Linked DNA regions of Homo sapiens: region 2 is linked to region 1. The links come from fine-mapping of genetic effects on gene expression. A gene starts in region 1. The other region holds a variant in brackets. All regions are shown on one strand. Distances are between the middles of the regions.

Region 1 (2,900 bases):
TTCCAGGCTCAAGTGATGCTCTCACCTCAGCCTTCCGAGTAGATGGGACTACAGGTGCATGCTGCCACACCAAGCTAATTTTTTTTTTCTTTTTTTGAGATGGAGTCTCACTCTGTCTCCCAGGCTGGAGTGCAGTGGCTTGATCTCAGTTCACTGCAACCTCCGTCTCCCAGGCTCAAGAGATTATCCTGCCTCAGCCTCCCAAGTAGCTAGGATTACAGGCACGTGCCACCACACCCGGCTAATTTTTGTACTTTTAGTAGAGACAGGGTTTCACCATGTTGGCCAGGCTGGTCTCAAACTCCTGACCTCAAGTAATCCTCCCACCTCAGCCTCCCAAAGTGCTGGAATTACAGGTGTGAGCCACCGCGCCCGGCTACCAAGCTAATTTTTAAAATTTGTTTGGAGAGATGGGGTTTCACCATGTTGTTCCAAGACCCCAGTGCTTTTCGCCTCCATTAGCAACTACAGGAACATCTTCGTTCATCTCTGTCTCCCCACTTGTGAGATGTTCTCTTTAAGATAAACTCCCGGCAGTGAAGGGTGTGTGCATTTTAAAAGGTCTCAGATATGGCCAAATCATCCCCATTGCAACCTGTGATGGGGACTCTTTCCCATGCCCCTGCCACCACTGGGGAGCCCTTCTTGTTCATCTCACCAGCTGGAGCCCCCCTCTCTCAGTTTATCTTTGTCTCACACTCACCTGACCTTGCAGGGCTCGGCTCCTTGCTCCACGCCCTGTCCATGTGGCTTTTGCATCCTGAGGCATGAGTTCCTCTGCTCTGTCTGCCTGCTTTTCTCTATCAACCTGTCACCTTCCCTTCGGGCTCACTTCCTACCTCTCTGAGGCTCTGTCCGTCTCTGTCTCACTTTCCCTCTCGTCTCTGGTTTCCCTTCTCTGTCTCTCTGTTGCGGTGTCTCTCTCCTGGCTGGGTTTGATGTCTGTTTCTCCCTGACCACCTGCTCTGTCACTCATGCTAGTTTGGGTTCCCTACCCTGGTGCCTATTCTGGGATATACATGGGTATGTGGGCAGCCCTGGGCTGGCACATGCAGCCTTGGAGGCTCTGGCGTCAGGGACCCCCATGAGGGCTACCAGTAAGAACCAGAGAGAGCGACGGTTCCTGGCTTCAGCCCCAAACCCTGGCTGTCAATATCAGCCTTGGTGGGAGCCCTAGGCTTCCCTCTCCCTCTCAAACCCTCCCCAGGCAGAAGGCAACTTCCTCCCTTCTTCCGTCTCCCCAGGGGGCTCCCATACCTGCTCAGACCAGCTTGTCACCAAGTCTGCCTCATCCTTAAGTGGATCGCGATACCCCAGAAGAGCAGCTCCTGCCTGAATAGGGCTAGGAGGGGAAAAAAAAGAGGAAGAGGCTGTGTTCCTGAGCCACCCGGCCAGGAAGGGCCTGGCTGGGCCGGACGCCCCACCCTTGCCAACAGGCAGGCCCGCCCCGTCTCCGCCTCGCCGCCAACAAGGAGGACCAGCACCAGGCCTGGGAACTGCTGACCTGCCCGCCCACCTTCCCACCCAGACCCCGCCTTCCCGGGCCAGCGGGACATGACAGACCTGTGAGTCACTCAAGCCTGGGGCAAGGAGGGGCTGGTGCCTGAGTGAGACCCCGAGCTTCGCTCGCCAGGCCCGTCGCTCAGCTCCCGGTCTGGGTCCCCAGTCAGCAGTTGCTGGGGAAGGCGCAGGAGCTGGAAGTCATGCCTGATGCCACGAGACCGGGCACCCCAAGGGCGTGAGTCTTCTGTCCCTGTTGTTGGGTTCTGAGTCCCAGTGTGGCTGCACACTTCTGAGTTAGGGGTGTTTGATGCAAGCGCTCTGGAGACCCAAAGAGAGGGACAGTCCACACATGATCTGGCCACAGTCGTGAAGTCAAGGGAGGACTGAGGATCTGCCCCAGAGAGGAGGAGACCCAGGGAGCTGGCAGTCCAACGTCCTGGGGGTCCTGCAGTAATGCTGTTGGGACAAATGAGGTGCTCGGACAGGGTCTGTGAGCAGGAGGTGGGGCTGAATCCACTCAGCTTCTCATGGGATGGCTGTAGCTAATGGATTCGACGTGGTAATAGAAGGCTGGACAAATTTTAAAAAATCAATAAATTATGGGCTGGGCGTGGTGGCTCATGCCTGTAATCCCAGCACTTTGGGAGGCTGAGGCGGGTGGATACGAGGTCAGGCGTTCAAGACCAGCCTGGCCAACATAATGAAACCCGTTTCTACTAAAAATACAAAAAATTAGCCCGGCGTGGTGGTGGGCGCCTGTAATCCCAGCTACTCAGGAGGCTGAGGCAGGAGAATTGCTTGAGCCTGGAAGGCGGAGCTTGCAGTGAGCCGAGATCACACCACTGCACTCGCACTCCAGCCCGGGCGACAGTGCGAGACTCCATCTCAAAAAAAAAAATCAATAAATTATGGTTTAAAAATAAAAAACAGGCCAGGTAGGATGACTCACACTTTGGGAGGAGAGGCAGACAGATCACCTGAGGCCGGGAGTTCGAGACCAGCTTGACCAACATGAAGAAACCCAGCCTCTACTAAAAATACAAAAATTAGCCAGGTGTGGTGGCTTGCGCCTGTAATCCCAGCTACTCAGGAGGCTGAGACAGAAGAATCGCTTGAACCTGGGAGGCAGAGGTTGCAATGAGCTGAGATCTCGTCACTGCACTCCAGCCTGGGCAACAGAGCAAGACTCTGTCTCAAAAATAAAAATAAATAAAAATAAAAATAAAAAACTGCCGGGTGCGGTGGCCCATGCCTGTAATCCTAGCACTTTGGGAGGCTGAGGTGGGTGGACTGCCTGAGCTCAGGAGTTCGAGACCAACCTGGGCAACATGGTGAAACCCCATCTCTACTAAAATACAAAAAAAAAAAAAAATTAGCCGGGCGTGGCGACCTGCGCC
Region 2 (2,900 bases), 57 kb before region 1:
AGCCAGGGCAAGGGAGGACGGAAAGGCCCCAGGAGCAAGAGGCCCGCGGGTCGCACTTACCCATCTGGCGTCCAACTTGGTTTAAAGAGGGAGAGCCACTGATTTGCAAGGGGCAGCAAGCCACAGGCGCACATCCCCGCCCCTGCCCCCACACTCTGCCGTCGCACACACCCAGGTGGCAGGAAGGGAGGGCTGCCCCACCCTGTGGGCAGCACCCAGCCTTGGCAGGCTGTCCCTCTTTAAACCGCAGCCCTGGTGCTCAAGGGGCACAGGCTTCTGTTCAAAGCCTTTAGACCTGAGACACGAGAAAAACTCCACGTGGTGGGCAGGATATTTCCTGCCGACCCCAAGCGTGGGCTGCACCCGGCCAGAGCAGAGGCCTGGAACCCAGAGCTGGGCCAGGGGGGTCACTGAACACAGGGCCAAGGCCTGGTCTCTGCGGTGGCTCTGGTCTGTCCGGGCCCAGGAGCCCCAGGTGGGCGGTTTCTCTCGGTGCCTCACCTGAAGGCTAGAAACAGTGAGGCGGCGGGCGTCGCCAGACGGAGAAGCCACAGGCACCACGAAGGGGCTGTCGGGAATGTGTTCCTCGTTGAACTTGACTGAGACTTCGTAGTCACCTGGGCAGGGAAAGAGTGTAAGACCGGCTCATCAGCCTTTGGGCCTCCCACCTCCCACGAACAGCCTGGGTGGCCCTGTGACCTCAAAGTGAAGAGTGAGTGCCAGGCAGGGCTATCTGTGCCAGCCCTGGGTCCAATACCCACACTCAGGCCCCACCTCCTCCAACCCCAGCCGGGTTCCCAGTACCTGGCTCCTGGACCACATAAGCCACACCACAGGAGCCGTCCTTGCGGTCCTCAAAAGAGATCTCAGCCTTGCTGGGGCCCTCGACAGCAATGGCCAGGCCTCCAGCACCAGCTTCCCGGGTCCAGATACTGAATTCGGCTGTGGGAGAACAGTTTGTCCTCACTGAAGGCTGCTTCACCAGCCTCGGCCCCCTCCAGGCATAGCCAAGGTAGACATGCCTGCCGGCTCTTTCCTCCACCCCCAACCCCACCCTGGCCAACGCAGGAGAGCGAGCACTCGGGGTGTGAGCAGGCCTACCTGGCACTCCAGCTTCAGCTCTCTCCA[G/A]GCCAGGGCCCCCAGCTCGGACCTTGTGGGCTCCCCCTTCCCCTAGGGGCCCCACGGTGAACTGGAAGGGGCTCCCAGGCACGTGCTGGCCCTTGTACTTCACGCTGACTGTGTGTGTGCCCATCTCAGCGGGAACAAAGCGGATGCAGTAGGTGTGGTTCTCCCCTTCCACGATCTCGGCCTCATGGGTCTTGCCCGATGGGCTGGTCACCTGGGCTGTCATATCCTGGATGCTAATTTCTGCAGGGTGGGGATGGGCTAGTGAGCAGCAGCCCTGGGCTCCACCCCTCCTCTTGGGGCTGCTTGAGCCCCAGGACCCCTCCCCAGGCTTCCCACAGCCCCTACCAGGGATTTTCAGGCTGAGGTCACAATGACTACCAACGTTGGCCACTGAAGGAGCCCGACGCCTGCGGGTGATGCTCTCTTTCACCCGGCCCTCGCCTGTCACCTTCACAGAGAAGGGGCTGCCTGCAGGAAGAAAGCACGGCCCACGCCCCTCCAGTCACATACTGCCTGTGGGCCCTGGTGTAGTGAGGGGGGCTGCCGAGGCACTGCTGCACTCACCAGGCACGTGCTGGTCGGCAAACTTGATGTTGATGATGTAGTTGCCTGGCTCTGTGGGGCAGTAGGTGACCCTGCACGTCCCGTCCTCCAGGTCCTCTGTGTTGATGTCCACCTTGCTGGGGCCCTCAATGGACAGGCTGAGCCCACCATAGCCTAGGGGATGGATACCCCTGAGCCTCGGTGCTATGCACAGTGCTCCCGCCCCAGCTGGTGGGCAGCCACTGCCTACCTGCATCGCGGGTATCAATGATAAACTCTGCAGGCTCAAAGGTGTGGCCTTCGTGAAGGCCCTGACCAGAGACCCGAACACGACTGGCATCCCCAATTTCCGACTGGCTGATCACCACCGGGATGGGGCTGCTGGCCACGTGCTGGCCATTTTTCTTCACATGCACCAGGTGCTCCCCCGTCTCCTTGGGCACGAATGAAATCCCTGGACACAGGGCATGGCTGTCAGTCAGGGAGGGCATGGCTCCCCACAGGCTGCCTCCTTTCTGAACCCCCTGGACCCTTCAGCCGCTTACCCACGTGGCCATTACGCAGCCGCTTCAGCAAACAGGGCTCCTCCCGGCCCGAGGGCGGGACCACAGTGGCCGTCAGCAGGCTGAGATCCGTCTCTGAGATGTTGATGGGGATGTCGGCAGCAGAGCCGACCTTTAGGTGGGACATACGCATGGAGTCGTCACCTGGTGGGGACAGGCCAGCCATCAGTGTGCGTCCAGCCATGGGAGACCATGCCCACCCTGCCACCCGTTTCTGTCACTGCTCCCAGTGCCACCCACCTGTGACCCGAGCAGTGAAGGGGCTGCCTGGGACGTGCTGTTCATTGTACTTGACTAGAATGCTGTAGTCCCCCGGCAGCACAGGCAGGTAGGACACGCTGCATGTCCCATCCTGGTTGTCAGTGCAGCTGATTTCTGCTTTGGACGGGCCCTCAATGGCCAGAGACAGGCCCCCTGGAGAGAGCCGTGGGTGAGCATGGGAACTATGCTGGGGACACTCCAGTTGGCCTGCACTGAGGAGCTCCGATGGCCAGGGCAGCAGGGCAGGGAGCCCCATTCAGGAGTATCTCCTGAGTCCAGCCCTTACCCCGGTGAGGGCATCCCGGGCACAGAGCAGGTCAAGACCAGAGCTATTGCTCACCCTCTCCTGCATCCTTGGTGTTGACGGTGAAGGTGGCAGGCTTGTTCACTACTCCATGGGTGAGG

Which allele goes with the higher level. Alleles are on the strand shown, and positions count from the first base shown. SD is a standard deviation of normalised expression in the study named.
With allele G in place of A in region 2, the expression in skeletal muscle of the gene that starts at base 1,400 in region 1 is higher (moderate effect, 0.67 SD a copy in GTEx).

The links. PIP is the estimated chance that this variant, and not a neighbour inherited with it, causes the effect.
Region 2: its variant is the best candidate, but not a certain one, in a credible set for the expression of DNASE1L1 in skeletal muscle (GTEx, PIP 0.80).

The regions. Positions count from the first base shown.
Region 1 is chrX:154,407,855-154,410,754 of GRCh38, forward strand. DNASE1L1 (deoxyribonuclease 1 like 1) reads right to left here and starts at 1,400. Exons shown (of 8, transcript NM_001303620.2): 1 at 1,258-1,400.
Region 2 is chrX:154,351,080-154,353,979 of GRCh38, forward strand. FLNA (filamin A) reads right to left here. Exons shown (of 48, transcript NM_001110556.2): 35 at 2,836-2,900; 36 at 2,475-2,648; 37 at 2,217-2,378; 38 at 1,922-2,125; 39 at 1,693-1,845; 40 at 1,474-1,596; 41 at 1,102-1,368; 42 at 805-942; 43 at 502-617. Among named protein-coding and RNA genes, the nearest start is that of FLNA, 22 kb to the right of the region's middle. The variant G/A (reference allele first, on the strand shown) is at 1,129.